Linked DNA regions of Homo sapiens. The protein of the gene in region 1 binds, or shares a complex with, the protein of each later gene. Each region holds a gene or a part of one and is shown in the gene's direction. Other genes may lie near its edges.

What was found. The genes of interacting proteins can lie anywhere in the genome.
Region 2: the proteins of DBT (region 1) and DLD are in contact, whole or in part, in a crystal structure (PDB 3RNM), measured with the Homo sapiens proteins. Residues at the interface, in NP_001909.4 of Homo sapiens: Thr174, Pro175, Ala176, Lys196, Arg199, Leu201, Lys202, Glu203, Leu206; in NP_000099.2 of Homo sapiens: Ser446, Thr447, Asp448, Arg449, Glu472, Tyr473, Gly474, Ser476, Glu478, Asp479, Arg482.

What each region holds. Positions count from the first base shown.
Region 1 is NC_000001.11:100,246,600-100,254,404, reverse strand, and holds the start of DBT (lipoamide acyltransferase component of branched-chain alpha-keto acid dehydrogenase complex, mitochondrial isoform 1 precursor), read left to right. Parts: upstream 1-4,570; 5' UTR 4,571-4,584; coding exon 4,585-4,635; intron 4,636-5,319; exon of another isoform or gene 5,320-5,506; intron 5,507-7,805. UniProt on the Homo sapiens protein: The branched-chain alpha-keto dehydrogenase complex catalyzes the overall conversion of alpha-keto acids to acyl-CoA and CO(2).
Region 2 is NC_000007.14:107,886,695-107,894,182, forward strand, and holds the start of DLD (dihydrolipoyl dehydrogenase, mitochondrial isoform 1 precursor), read left to right. Parts: upstream 1-4,488; 5' UTR 4,489-4,556; coding exon 4,557-4,595; intron 4,596-6,505; coding exon 6,506-6,584; intron 6,585-7,488. UniProt on the Homo sapiens protein: Lipoamide dehydrogenase is a component of the glycine cleavage system as well as an E3 component of three alpha-ketoacid dehydrogenase complexes (pyruvate-, alpha-ketoglutarate-, and branched-chain amino acid-dehydrogenase complex).

The sequences.
Region 1 (7,805 bases):
GATGGTAGGGAAGGTATTATCAATGTCAATCTCATCTTGTACACAAGAAAATTGAAACTTGCCCATGATAGGCAAAAAAGAGGCAGATCTATATATAATTCAAACTCTTAATGAATCACTACAAACTATCCATATTAAACAAAATATATATCTGTATTATATACAATACATACAACTCTATATTAACATAGTTGACTAAGCATATATTGGAACAGTTTCTAAATAAGTAATGATATTTAAATACTTAGGCTATTAAAAGTCCTCAAAATTCATAAATAGTTAAACTACAGTAGCTCTGGCAAGCATGTGTTGGTATATTTTGGGGTAATGGTCAATGCAGGGGCTGACTCTAGGCTACATTTATCTCCTGACCACTTAGAATTCAGAGCAGAATTCAGAAGGTCATCCTCAGATTTTTCTACACCAGTCAGGCACACCAAGGAGCCAAACAAGTAATTTAAGACCTTCATTAATTAGCATCTTGCATTTTGGTAAACGTCACTCTTTCTGAGAATTCCATTGAATAGAGCAGAGTGTCAATTTAACGAAGCCACAGTCATGTTCTATTTTTTTTTTCTTTTAGGCAGGGTCTTGCCCTGTTGTCTAGGCTGGAGTGCAGTGATGCAATCACAACTTACTGCAGCCTCGAGCTCCAGAGCTCAAGTGATCCTCTCGCCTCAGTCTGTAGGACTACAGGCACACGCCACTACCCCCAGCTAATTTTTTGTAGAGATGGGGTTTTGCCATGTTGCCCAAGCTGGTCACAAACTCCTGAGCTCACGCGATCCTCCCGCCTTGGCCTTCCAAAGTGCTGGGATTACAGAGCCGCCGTACCTGTCCCACAGTCATTTTCTTAAGGATAAATTGTTTCATCTTACTTTGTCCCACATTTATAGAAAGTAACATAGACAACCATCTTAGAAATATCAACAATTGAGCAAGCACTCTAAGAATGGCTAATAAACATGTAGAAACATGCTCAACTTTATTAATAATCAGGGAAATTCAAATTAAGATTATAACATCATTTTATAATTACTAAATTGGGGGAAAATTTTAAATCTGACAATATCAAATGAGAAACAATAAACATACAGCAGCTAGGCATGTAGTTTGTACAATCACATTGGAAAACAATCTCGTATTATCTAGAGTAAACTTGAAGATAAACATAACCCCTGTTTCAACAATTCAACTTTTAGGTATTTATCCTAAGCCTACTAATCAAAGTGTAGTTGGCTAACCAATAGCATTTGTATCACCTGGAGCTTGTTAGAAATGCAGAATGGCAGGTTTACCCACATTTACTGAATTAGAATCTGCTTGTTAACAAGATCCCCGGTTGCTATGAATGCTCATTAATGTCTGAGAAGCGCTGTGCTAAAGAAACCCTAGAACATGCACCAGGAGAAATGATCAAGAATGTTCATAACAGCACTGACGGTAATAGCAAATAACTAGAAATAGCACAAATATCCACTCAGTAGAGAATGGATAAATAAATCATGTCAGAAAAACTAGTTGCAGAAAGATACATACAGTTTAATACCATTTTTATGAGACTCAAAAACAAGCAAAAGTAAATAATATGTTACTAGGCATCCATCCATATATGTATATGTGGTCAATTCTAAAATAAACAAAGGAATGAAAAACACAATTCAAGATAACGCTTATGAAGGGGAGAGGTAAAGGAAGGAGCAGACAGTGATCTTCACTAACGGGAAAGATTCTATTTCTTTTTTTTTTAGTTTAAAATGTATTTTATTTTTAGACAACCTACATAATGTGTTTTTCCATAGGTTCTATTTCTTAAAGTTGAGTGATAGGTTCAAGGGTTTTTGTTATATTATCATGTGACATATGTATTTGTTTTGTATTGTTTTGAGATGGAATCTTGCTCTATTGCCCAGGCTGGAGTGCAATGGCACAATCTTGGCTCACCACAACCTTCGCCTCCCAGATTTAAGCAATTCTCCTGCCTCAGCCTCCCGAGTATCTGGGACTACAGGCGCATGCCACCATGCCTGGCTAATTTTTGTATTTTTAGTAGAGATGGGGTTTCACTATGTTGGCCAGGCTGGTCTCGAACTGCTGACCTCGTGATCTACCCGCCTTCGCCTCCCAATGTGCTGGGATTACAGGCATGAGCCACCACGTCCAGACTTATGTATTTGTTTTTATTCATATGTTCATTATTGTCTCATATAACACAGTTTTAACAGCTTTATTATGGTGTACTTTACATACCATAAAATTCACCTGTCTTAAGTGTATAATTCAAAGATTTTTAGTAAATGTACAGAATTATGCAATCATTGCCACAAAGTGGCAACAGAAAATTTTCATCACCACAAAAAAAATCTCTCTTGCCTCTGCAATCACTGCCCCTTCCACCTCTAGCCCCAGGCGAATTTGTTTTCTAATGCTAACCTTATTAATTAATAATACTAATATAATCTTATTATATAACTAATATAACTAAAACTAATCTGTTTTTCATCTCTATAAATCAACATTTTCTGGACATTTAATTTAAATGGAATAATGTAATATGTGATCTTTTGTGCTTGTATTCTTTTACTTAGCATAATATTTTTTTGACATTCATCCATGTCATAGCAATTATCGCTAATTCAGTCATTTTTAAGGATGAATAATATTTCAGAATATGGATGTACCACATTTTGTTTATTCACCTGTTAATGGACATCTGGGCTGTTTCTAGATTTTGGCTGTTATGCTGTTATGATTATTCCTATTCAAGTCTTTGTGTGAACACTGTTGTCATTTCTCTTATGTAGCTATCCAGGAGTGGAATTGGTGGGTCATAACTGGCCATTTTTAAATCTAAAAAAAGAGAAGAAATGGGGTCTTTGTTTCTTTCAAACTCGAATAAAAGAATTAACTAGGGAATAGATGGTGTATTTCTTTCCAGATGCTGGAATGAAAGATAAGGACACATATTATACTGAATATAGAAGCAAGAATCCATTGACATAAGAAGACGGTAAAGGAAAATAAACTAGTTATCTTCTGAGGAGCAGGTACAGTTAAAAACGAAATTAGGACAAAGAAAGTTGTATAGCAGCAGCTTGGAAGGGAGATGATTCACTTCAAAGGTACAACTGCCACTGCTTTTTATACAAACACATGCTTGTGGGATTATCAAATATATTAATAATGTCTATAAACATTTTTAAGGAAATGTAAAAACTTGAAATTCTTTTGACTACTCTAGATTTTCTGAGAAAGATAGCTATTTAGGCCGGACCCAGTGGCTCATGCCTGTAATCCTAGGACTTTGGGAGGCTGAAATGGGAAGATCGCAGTTTGAGACCAGGACTTTGAGACCAGCCTGGGCAACATAGAGAGATCCCATCTTGAACTTCTGAGCTCAAGCCATTTGCCTGCCTCAGCCTCCCAAAGTGCTGGAATTATGGGCAGGAGCCACCACGCCTGGCCCAAGAGACCCTATCTCTACCAAACAAACAAACAAACAAAAAAGATAATAAGATTTATTGTTTGCATTGATTTTTTGTGTGTAGATGTGTAATACATAAAATGGCAAATGAGGGGGAAAAGTGTTTGGGTCATATTAAACAATGAAGTTGTGAAATACCTGAGATTTTGTTTCATAACCACTAATCTTCAATGTTGAGCATTTAAAATGTATTTGTTCCAGTTTTTTTTCTCTGTAATTCCTTAGACATCTGTGCAGATTTTCATTCCCACGTAAGAAGCAATAACAGACTAATGTCATCCTGGACATTTCCAGGAATTGGTTTCCTAGTTGCTCTGAGGAAGATTGCCTTTTAAAAGAAAGCTCTGATCTGTTCTTTACCAGTTCCACTTGACCTGAATTTGACATTTCTTTAAGAGACAACTAAATCAAGATCATGTGTCTGTGACATGTATTGCATATGCTAGTTAGCTGCATCTGATAGCAGTCTGTAAAAAGAAAGATGATAACATGTTTATTTTAGACATTAGGTAATGTTCATCTTTCATGAAAAAAATTGATTAGCCAATTTTGGTAATCAAAAACATAAATGGGAGTAAAAAAGGCAGTCATTGGGAAGTACTGCTGTATGGACTTGTGAAACAACTAGTTGTCCAGAGCCTTGCTACAACGTATAGAAATATTCTATTTTCTGTATTTGGGGCGGCTACACTACAAGATGAAGACGGGGAAATGTTTTCCAACTCATCGCTCAGGTCCTACTGCAACATAACTTTCTTGAGGTAAGTACCTTTCTTTGTGTTTCCTTAACACTCTCTATTTTCCCCATCACATACACTAAAAAGATTATCTTTGGTGCATCTGTATTTACACAGCAGTGTTAAATTTGGGCTGCCCTCTGCCCCGCCTCCGTCCCCCAGGCTCTTTTCACTCCCCGCTGGGTCCCAGATCCTAGGGTTTAGCTCAGGCTCCGCCCTACTCCTTGGTTGGCTGTTGGGTGGGAGGCTCGTTTCTTCCCTCCCTATTGGTCGCCCAGGGGGAGGCGCGTTTCCCATCTCCTGATAGGCCGCGCCGAGGAGAGTCTCTCCAGTTTGCGGCACTGTTGTCATTTCCGGGGTAAGATGGCTGCAGTCCGTATGCTGAGAACCTGGAGCAGGAATGCGGGGAAGCTGGTAAGCACGTTTGGGCAGATCTGAGGCCGGGAAGGAGTGATTTGTCCGGAGTCATCCAGGAGTGGTGTTTTACTTTCTCCTCCGGTGCCAGGCGTCCAGGGCACGCGTGATGGAGAGGTGAAGGGATGCATGCAAAATAAAGGGCAGAGAACGGAGCGAGTCGACCAGTCTGGAGTGGAAACCCACTCCCTCCCCTTACCTGGAAGCGCTTCTGCAGCGACTCAGCCGTCCTGCTCCATCTGTACCCCGAGGCCCAGCTAGCGTTTTATTGAGCGCCTTCCAGGTGCCCAGGCATTGTGATAGGCGCTGTGGATCCAGAGATATATTCGTTTAGCATTTATTGCGTACCCACAGTATGCCAAACACTGGTAACACGACCCCTACCCTCAAGGAATCTACAGTGTGTAGAGGAAGAGGCCGTTCAAGTTATAGAATATCAGCAGGGGTCCCTGCTTCCGAAGAACTGAGCAGCTCGGCGTCACTCTTTTGCCTTGTACTTCTATGTCCGCACCACATATCATTCCTACCCTTTTGTCACCAAGGCTGTGACCCATCACCATCTCCCCTGCACTTCCTTCTCTTTCTCCCAGTCTTAGCACCAAGCACTGACACATACCGGTAATGATACTTGTTACCCCTATTTGCTTAGTGTTTCTTCTTCCTGCCTCTTCTCCCTTTCCCTAGATGCTCCTGCCTTGGTGACCCCGATCTTACAAAAACTTTCAAGAGCCTGCTATGTACCAGTGCTGTGTTAGGCACTGGAGATACAAATATGAAATAGACATCATATCTTCCTTCTCAAGAGATTACAACCTTGTGGTGGAGGACAAAGGAGAGGGAGACAGATAGAAATTACAACCCAGCATGAGAGGTACTGTGATGGGACAAGTGCCTAGAACTACAGGAACACACAGGAGTGGACACCTATGGTGGACTTGGGGGTCAGAGGAGTTCCCAGAGGATACTGTATGACTTGAGATGTAAGAAGGATAAGTAAGAGATAACCAGGAGAAGAGAGCTCTTCTCAGCAACACTTAACACATATTGGTCTCTCTTCTTTCTAGAGCTTTCCATTCTTGTTTTCTGTGACACCAGTTTCCCAATATTATTCTTTCTTCATCTTTGGCCACTTCATCCCAATATCCTGTTTCCCTTCCCGCCTTTTAAATATTGCTTTTTCTAAAGGGCTCTGACTTTGGCCCTCTGCACTTTTCCCACTTTCTGGGTTATCCCATCCACTCTTTGGCTTTAGTTACCATCTATGCTGATGAGTCCTAAAGTTCCCCAGTCTTCCAACCAGGTCTACTCCAAACCCATATATCCTACTGTCCTGGAAATCTCCAGTTTCATATGTACGTGATGTTTTCCAGCTGCAATTAAAAACCCAACCAATAAATAGGAAATTAAGTATCCATGCATACAGAGCATCCCCAATTAGATGTCAGCTCACATTAAGTGGCTTATGATTATCAATGTCGTCATTTCCCTAGTAGTTCATTTGTCCTTTTCCTACTGTATACAAGAGGGCTGCTACGACTTCTTCTTTTATGTTGAAGGCAGGAAGGTGGAAGAGGAGGAGGTTCCAGTCTCACTGGCCAGAACTGTGTTACATGGCCCCGGCTAGCACAAGGGAGCTTAGAAAAACTTGTCTTTTTTTTTTTTTTTTTTGAAATGGAGTCTCTCTCTGTCACCCAGGCTGGAGTACAGTGGTGCGATCTTGGCTCACTGCAACCCCTGCCTCCCAGTTTCAAGCGATTCTTTTGCCTCAGCCTCCCAAATATCTGGGACTACAGGCACACGCCACCATGCCCAGCTAATTTTTGTATTTTTAGTAGAGACGAGGTTTCACCATGATGGCCAGGCTGGTCTCAAACTCCTGACCTCAAGTGATCCGCCTGCCTTGGCCTCCCAAAGTGCTGGGATTACAGGATGAGCCACCATGCCCAGCAGAAAAGCTTGTCTTTAGTCTTCTCACAGTGTCTGCCGTAAAGCTTCAAAGCAGGTCAGACTCTCCAGCCTCTAGAACTGAACCCTCAAACCAGTTTCTCTTAATTTTTTTTTTTTTTTTTTTTGAGAAGAGTCTTGATCTGTTGCCCAGGCTGGAGTGCAGTGGTGCAATCTCGGCTTACTGCAACCTCCACCTCCTGGGTTCAAGTGATTTTCCTGCCTCAGCCTCCCAAGTAGCTGGCACTACAGGCGCGAACCACCATGCCTGGCTAATTTTTGTATTTTTAGTAGAGACGGGGTTTTGCCATGTTGGCCAGGCTGGTCTTGAATTCCTGACCTCAGGTGATCCTCCTGCCTTGGCCTCCCAAAGTGCTGGGATTACAGGCGTAAGCCACTGCCCCTGGCCCAGTTTCTCTTGATTTGAGCCTGTAATTCTCTCTGAAGAAATCTAGTCATGATTTTTCCACCCTGCCCTCAACTGGAGGTGTCTTGGCCCTTCTTAACTGGATTATATGCCTCCAGTGGTCTTGTAGTTTTTCCAACCCATTCTCCATAGTGTAGCCAGAGTGATCTTATAAAGTAAGAGACATTTGATAATATCATTTTCTTGTTTAAAACTGCCTTCAGCAAAATGTCCAAAATTCAAATGACTATGAGGCAATTTATGATCTGGACCTTTCCAGTCTCTTAGATCTCATTCCTTACCAAAACCTACCCATCCCAACCCCAACTCTGACACTTCCCCACCCTTATTCCACACTAAACTACACTAGAAGTCTGTTGAACAACTTGAGTTATTTGCACACACACTGTGCTTTCTGTCTCAACTCCAGACCTTTGCACATGTATTTCCTCTGCTTTAAAGACTCTTGCCTTACTCCACTGTGGCCTTATCTGCAACATACCTCATCCCCGGGGTTACACCTACTCATCCGTCAGGTCTTACTTCAACATAACTTTCTCCAGCTAGGTTCCCTTAACACACTCTATTTCCTTCATTATAGCACGTGTTATAATCACCGGTTTACTTGTCTTTACCTTTCACTGTACTGTGCATTCTATAAGGGAAGAAATTGCATCTGTTTTGTTCTCTGTATAATCCCAAGTGCCTGGCACATTGTAGGTGTGCATAAATATTTTTTAAATGACTCAGTAAAAAAAAAAGTCAGGTTTGTAAACTCTTCTAAAAAGTTGTAAGCAAAAACAGTTCTTACCCCCGTAGT
Region 2 (7,488 bases), on another chromosome or scaffold:
TGAAGGTACATTTTCTTCTAAGACTTACTGAGTCTGTTACACTGGCTCAACAAGGAATTAAGATATAGTTTGATATGAGGAGGAAAGGGCTTGAGAAAGGAACTGATGTTGGTTAAATGCTTACCATGGGCTAGACCTTGTACATATATCATCTACTGAATAATTACAACAACCTGTCGTGTGGGAGCTAGCACCTTGTGTTACCTTTAAAGAAAGTGAAGATTAGAAAAGTTAAGAAATGTTTACAAGTTTCCACATTTATTTATTACATTGAGGAGCAAGAATTCATAAACCTTTTCAACTCCAAAACTCATGCTCTTGTCATTATATTATCAACTGTACCAAAAAACTCGATGAAATGTAGCCTATTGTATTTAATATTTCCTTTTTCTTAAACCAGCAAAAGAAGTGTTTTGAAAAACCATGCTTTTCAAATATTTTGATTGCCTGACTTATTGCATGTATAATGAATAACTCATCTCCATTAACCCACTTAAATTAAGGGGTTTAATGAACCCCTTAAACTGCCAGTTAGAACTTCTGATTCATTTAAGGTAACCACTGTTAAGAATTAAAATAAGTGGGCTGGGTGCGGTGGCTCACACCTGTAATCCCAGCACTTTCGGAGGCCGAGGCGGGTGGATCACGAGGTCAGGAGATGGAGACCATCCTGGCCAACATGGTGAAACCCTGTCTCTACTAAAATACAAAAATTAGCCAGGCGTGGTGGCGGGCACCTGTAATCCCAGCTACTTGGGAGGCTGAGGCAGGTGAATCACTTGAACCTGGGAGGCAGAGGTTGCAGTGAGCTGAGATCGAGCCACTGCACTCCAGCTTGGTGACAGAGCAAGGTTCCGTCAAAAAATAAAATAAAATAAAATAAGTGAGAGACAATATAAATCTTTAAAATATGCTTTGTCTTTGACCTAGCAATTCCACTTCTGGGAATTTACTGCAAGGAAATGATAAAGAATGTGTGCAAAGACTTAGTGATAAGCTAATCACGATATTGAAAAATTGGTAATGGCTTACATATCTAATAATAAAATATAGTTGAATAAATTAGGGTATGTCCCAAAATACTCAGTAGTCATTAGAAGTAGGCTAATATTGAGAGGTGACAGCGTGCTGGCAGCCCTTGCAGCCCTGGCTCCCTCTCGGCGCCCCCTCGGCCTTGGTGCCCACTCTGGCCACGCTTGAGGAGCCCTTCAGCCTGCTGCTGCACTGTGGGAGTCCCTTTCTGGGCTGGCCAAGGCTGGAGCCGGCTCCCTCTGCTTGCGGGGAGGTGTGGAGGGAGAGGCGCGGGTGGGAACTGGGGCTTCGTGCAGCGCTTGCGGGCCAGCTAGAGTTCCGGGTGGGCGTGGGCTTGGTGGGCCCTGCACTCGCAGCGGCTGGCCGGCCCCACTTGCCCCGGGCAGTGAGGGGCTTAGCACCCAGGCCAGCAGCTGCAGAGGGTGCGCCAGGTCCCCCAGCAGTGCTGGCCCACTGGCGCCCAAGGGCTGAGGAGTGCGGGCACACAGCGGGACTGGCGGGCAGCTCCGCCTGCCGCCCCAGCGCAGGATCCACTGGGTGAAGCCAGCTGGGCTCCTGAGTCTAGTGGGGACTTGGAGAACCTTTGTGTCTAGCTAAGGGATTGTGAGTGCACCAATCAGCACTCTGTGTCTTGCTCAAGGCTTGTGAACACACCAATCAGCACCCTGTGTCTAGCTCAGGGTTTGTGGATGCACCAATTGGCACTCTGTATCTAGCTAATGTGGCGGGGACTTGGGGAATCTTTATGTCTAGCTAAGGGATTGTGAATACACCAATCGGCACTCTGTATCTAGCTCAAGGTTTGTAAACACACCAATCAGCACCCTGTGTGTAGCTCAGGGTTTGTGGATGCACCAATCGGCACTCTTTATCTAGCTAATCTGGTGGGGACTTGGAGAATCTTTATGTCTAGCTAAGGGATTGTGAATGCACCAATCGGCACTCTGTGTCTAGCTCAAGGTTTGTAAATGCACCAATTAGCACTCTGTGTCTAGCTAATCTGGTGGGGAATTGGAGAATCTTTACGTCTAGCTAAGGGATTGTGAATGCACCAATCGTCACTCTGTATCTAGCTCAAGGTTTGTAAATGCACCAATCAGCACTCTGTGTCTAGCTCAGAGTTTGAAAATACACCAATCGACACTCTGTATCTAGCTAATCTAGCGGGGACTTGGAGAACTTTTGTGTCTAGCTCAGCCATTGTAAACGCACCAATCAGCACCCTGTCAAAATGGACCAATCAGCTCTCTGTAAAACAGACCAATCAGCTCTCTGTAAAATGGACCAATCAGCAGAATGTGGGTGGGGCCAGATAATAAAAGCAGGCTGCCTGAGCCAGCAGTGGCAACCCGCTTGGGTCCCGTTCCACAGCGTGGAAGCTTTGTTCTTTCACTCTTTGCAATAAATCTTGCTGCTGCTCACTCTTTGGGTCCACACTGCCTTTATGAGCTGTAACACAGCGAAGGTTTGCAGCTTCACTCCTGAAGCCAGTGAGACCACAAACCCACCAGGAGGAATGAACAACTCCAGACGCGCTGCCTTAAGAGCTGTAACGCTCACCGCAAAGGTCTGCAGCTTCACTCCTGATCTAGCGAGACCACGAACCCACCAGAAGGAAGAAAGTCCGAACACATCCAAACGTCAGAAGGAACAAACTCCGGACACGCCGCCTTTAAGAACTGTAACACTCACTGCGAGGGTCCGCAGCTTCATTCTTGAAGTCAGTGAGACCAAGAACCCACCAATTCTGGACACAATATGAATATGGAAAGTTGCTCATGAGATAGTTTTAAGTGAAAAAAATCAAGTTAGCAAAATAAGTGTGGTCCAATTTCTGGTTATATTCCTTAGCTGGAATATAAACACTGCTAGTGTGGGCTGTCCATTGTTGACATCGCTCCCTCCACCTCCCGTGTGTTCGCATTAATTTATATGCGTTGTGGCTTTTGTTCTAGCTGAGAGGAGAAGAGGTATAGTTGGTACAAGAGATGAGGAGGAATGTGGAGAAATATGGTGAGTGCAGTAAGGAATCTATTTCCTGCCTCACTTCTCATACTGGGTTGAGCCCCTAGGCTTTGTGAATGACAGCTGGAAAGGATGGAAGTGTTTCATTTTTTAAAAATAAAAATATGATATTGTAATTTTGGACAAAGGAGTAGGGAACAAAGCCCAAGAAAGTTCAGGAAAGAATTGTGAGATTTTGTGCATATGGAGCAGTAACTCCTAGACCAGATGTCAAAGACTGCCATGAAGCTGGAGAGGAGACAATTCTCCCCATCTGTGTGGTGGAGGCTGCTCAATGTCCCCCAATTTCGCTTCATCTCATCTTGCTTATTAATACAATTTCAGTTAGGCACTCAGCTGACAGGACTATGTTTCACAGATCCCCTTGCAGCTAGGTGTGGCTTTGTAATCAGATGGAATGAGGGGATATGATTGTAGAAACTGGAGCAGCCATCTTGAATGAAAGATGCAAGGCAAGCTCTGATGATGGCAGAGTCACGAGATAAAAGGAGCCTGGGACCCTGTCACAGGACAGAGCTGCCAGCAATACCGTCTCTATAACAAACACTAAATTTAATTATTCATATCTAAATCTGAACATAGGCAGTAATTTCTAACCAGTGTTTAGCCCAGCACAAGGCCTGGGTGGTAGACTTCCAATAAATGTAGAATTAAGTTTATTCACACTATATAGACTTATTGCAAGGCAAGAATGAGACCTTAGACTTTCGTGCTCAATCTTGAAGACAATGTTTTTCAACCCTTTTCAACAGATTCTCTCTCAAAACCTAAAATCTCATCCACCATCCCACTCTCTTTTTACCAGGGAGATGTGTTTCTCAACTAAAGAAATAGAAGAAAGTGTGTTCTCTACGTATTGTCAGTTAGCTAATTAGAGCAGAATGCTGGTGATGCCAAAATCTGTAGCCCCATCCCTTATATGGCATTTGAGAGGAGCGAGTATAAAGCAGTAGATAATACCAAAGGTTTTGGCCTCAGGGCCGCAGTTATCTCTCCTTTGTGAGACCTTGGGGGCACTGTTTAACCTCTCTGGGTCTCATCCAAGAAATGGAAATACTAATAATACTCCATATGGTTGTTGCAAGGATGAAATGAGATGTCTGTAGGAAGTGCCGAGGAATGCCTAGCACAACCAAGAGCTTGTTGAACTTGTCACGCTTTACTGTCGATAATGTGCATTAAGCAAACGCTAGTTTTATTTGTTTATTTCATCTTCTAAGTATAAGAATACATTGTAGCTCGACATTTTGGCACCAGCCCCTAAAGCATTCCCACCACCACCCCCGCTGCGACAAAGCCCTGCGCTCCTTACGACAGCGTACGACGCCGAGCCTGACAGGAACGCCTCGTGCGGTAGAACCGCGCGGGCCAATCGCGCTGCTCCCGGGTGATGACGTAGGCTGCGCCTGTGCATGCGCAGGGAGGGGAGACCTTGGCGGAGCGGCGGAGGCGCCCAGCGGAGGTGAAAGTATTGGCGGAAAGGAAAATACAGCGGAAAAATGCAGAGCTGGAGTCGTGTGTACTGCTCCTTGGCCAAGGTGAGGGCCGAGTAGGTGAGGTCGTGTTGAGCCAGAGGCACGGAAGGTCCCGCTCAGTGGGTCCGGTACGCGGCTTAACCGTGTTGGGCTGGCGGAGGCGGGCGCCTGGGCCGCACCACCCCTGGCCCCGCCTCTGCACTGGCTCAGCCCGGCCCTGGGCTCCGAGGTGGCCGCTCATCCTGCAGCAGGCGAGGGACGGGGCTGGGCCCAGGCTGTGGCGAGTCCTTTCGGGTTGTGTGACGGCCGGCGGTCACACATGCCACACCCCCAAGCCTGGGCCGAGGGCCATCCCGGTCACACATAGGCCTCTACCTTGGAGGAAGTGTAAGCCACCCATGTCCCGTATAGTCTGGCTTTTTATACCATTTGCCTTTTTCTCATCCTAATTCTGATCCCTGAGTGGCCTAAGTTTATGCAGTGGGCAGGTAACCCTGGGGTCACTTCTTGAATGGTTTAGATCCAGTCAGCTCCAACAGATAGCCCTCGGAATTCCCCTAAGGTCTTGTCAGTGTTGGCAGCTTTCAACTGGTGTTCATTGCCATCTCTCACGACTTCCTGGAGGCTTAAATCTTTAATTGCAGCAGGTTATCAGAACAACTCTCCTTTTTAATCTGCTTACCAGATACAGCCAAATTGTGTGTATGTGGCACCGTGGCTGGGTACTATGTTAGTGGAGACCTTAAAAATAATATAGCGATCAAACCCTTTTGTTTCAGAGATGAGGAACCTGAGTTCTCAAAAGTTAATGTAACATTCTGCAAGTCATGCTTTTAGGGAGCGGCGGAGGTGGGACTGAAACTCAGGATTGTCAATCTGCTGCTTTTTGGGTTTGCTGTCCTGACCTCAAATGTTAAGAGTTGCCTTGGAATAGGAAACATCAGTGTAGGTTTTGTCACTGCCGCCCATTTTCCTGCTGTGAGCAGGGGTTATTTGCTTGCTTGCTTTCTGCCTCATTGCCCTTAGGAAATGGTAGCCGTCCACATATAGAGATTAGGGAGATTATGATGCAATTTGTCAAACTGTAGTAGCACCAGAACGTAAGTACATTACTTGGTGCATTTTCCTAAGTTACCTTGTCTAATTTGCTATTCCTAGTTGATGTCTCAGGAACATCTTCATAGATTGTTCTAAGTAAATACGGACTGTATATACACGCTAGCTTAGAGTTAGGAAACAAAAATTACAGGTAAAAAGATTATCATGTATAGATTATTCAAGTATTTAAGTTAGAACTTTCAGAGCTTTATTTATTTATTTATTTATTTATTTATTTTGAGACGGAGTCTCACTCTGACATCCAGGCTAGAGTGCAATGGCACTATCTCAGCTGACTGCAACTTCCGCCTCCCGGGTTCAAGTGATTCTCCTGCCTTGGCCTCCCGAGTAGCTGGGATTACAGGCACCCACCACTACACCCGGCTAATTTTCTTGTATTTTTAGTAGAGTCGGGGCTTCACTATGTTGGCCAGGCTGGTCTCGAACTCCTGACCTCAGGTGATCCGCCCACCTCAGCCTCCCAAAGTGTTGGCATTACAGGCGTGAGCCACCACGGCCGGCTCAGAGCTTTATGACATTAAAATGATCCCTGGCACTAATAATTAGCCATGTTTTCTGAAAATTGAATAAAAATACCATTGAATACGTTTTTAAAATTAAGTTAAATATGAGATGATTTGTTGACTATTGATAATAAAAAGATGGGTGTGGCAAGCTGAGGCTGAAAAATTTAAATGATTAGTTATTGTCAAAGAGGGGATATTGATCTGTAGCTTCTGTGTGGCAATGGAAGAAGATACACTAATAATCCTCGCTTGATACGTTTGCCCAAAATTGTTCTGTTATCATCAACCTTCAGTAGTTCTATGTTTTGAATTCATATCTTACATAATAGGGACATTTTCTTTTTCTAGAGAGGCCATTTCAATCGAATATCTCATGGCCTACAGGGACTTTCTGCAGTGCCTCTGAGAACTTACGCAGATCAGCCGAGTAAGTACTTAAGTAAAACATTTTTTTCATCACATTAGCTGACAGTTCCTTTCTATTTCAATGTAAAAGCAAGTGAATATTGGAATAACTTATGTTAAGTGTCTTATAGTTCATTTGTTCATGTATTTATTCGTTTGAATGTATATTGAGCTAGTGTGTTCCAGGCGGTGAACAAGGTAAAAAAACCCTGCTCTTATGAAACTTGTAATTTGGTGATAAAAGACAAACAATATATAAGTAATGGATAAATATTTTGGGAAGTAACTGAAAATTAAAGCAGGTAATAGGGAGGAAGAGAGATAATTTTAGATACAGTGTCAGGAAAGGCCTTTCTGAGGAGATGATGTCTGGGCAGGGTCCTGAGTGAAGTGGGGGAGTGAGGTTACTTCAGGCAGAGGGAAACAACACTGAGAAAGGCCTGAGGTGGGACTTAGCTTGTGAAGTTTAAGGAGTAATAAGAAGGCTGGTATGACTGGAGCAGAAACCCATGCAATGTAAAGTCGGAGAGGTAGGCAGGAGACAGATCATGGAGTGCCTTGTAAGGCAGGTCTAGTAGTTTGGATTATACTCCAAGTATGATGGGAAACAAAGGTTTTGAGCAGGGCAGCAATTTCATATGTTTACATTTAAAAAGTTAATTTTGTCCGTTGAGTAAGGTTGTATTGGTTATTTTAACACTGTTTAGAATGATGAGATGACTTTCTTGACATCCTGAATGAAAGTCTTCATGGGTTTATCAAAAGCATGTTTTAAAGATTAGCAGGATCTAAAAGGAAGCTATGGGTCATGGAATTTTCTCCTGTGTACTTTTTTTATATTTTTGAAGTTCCCATAAAGGATATGCATTTTATTTTTTTAAGTATTTAAAACAGAAAGTTAATAGGATTATATTGAAGTATTTTGA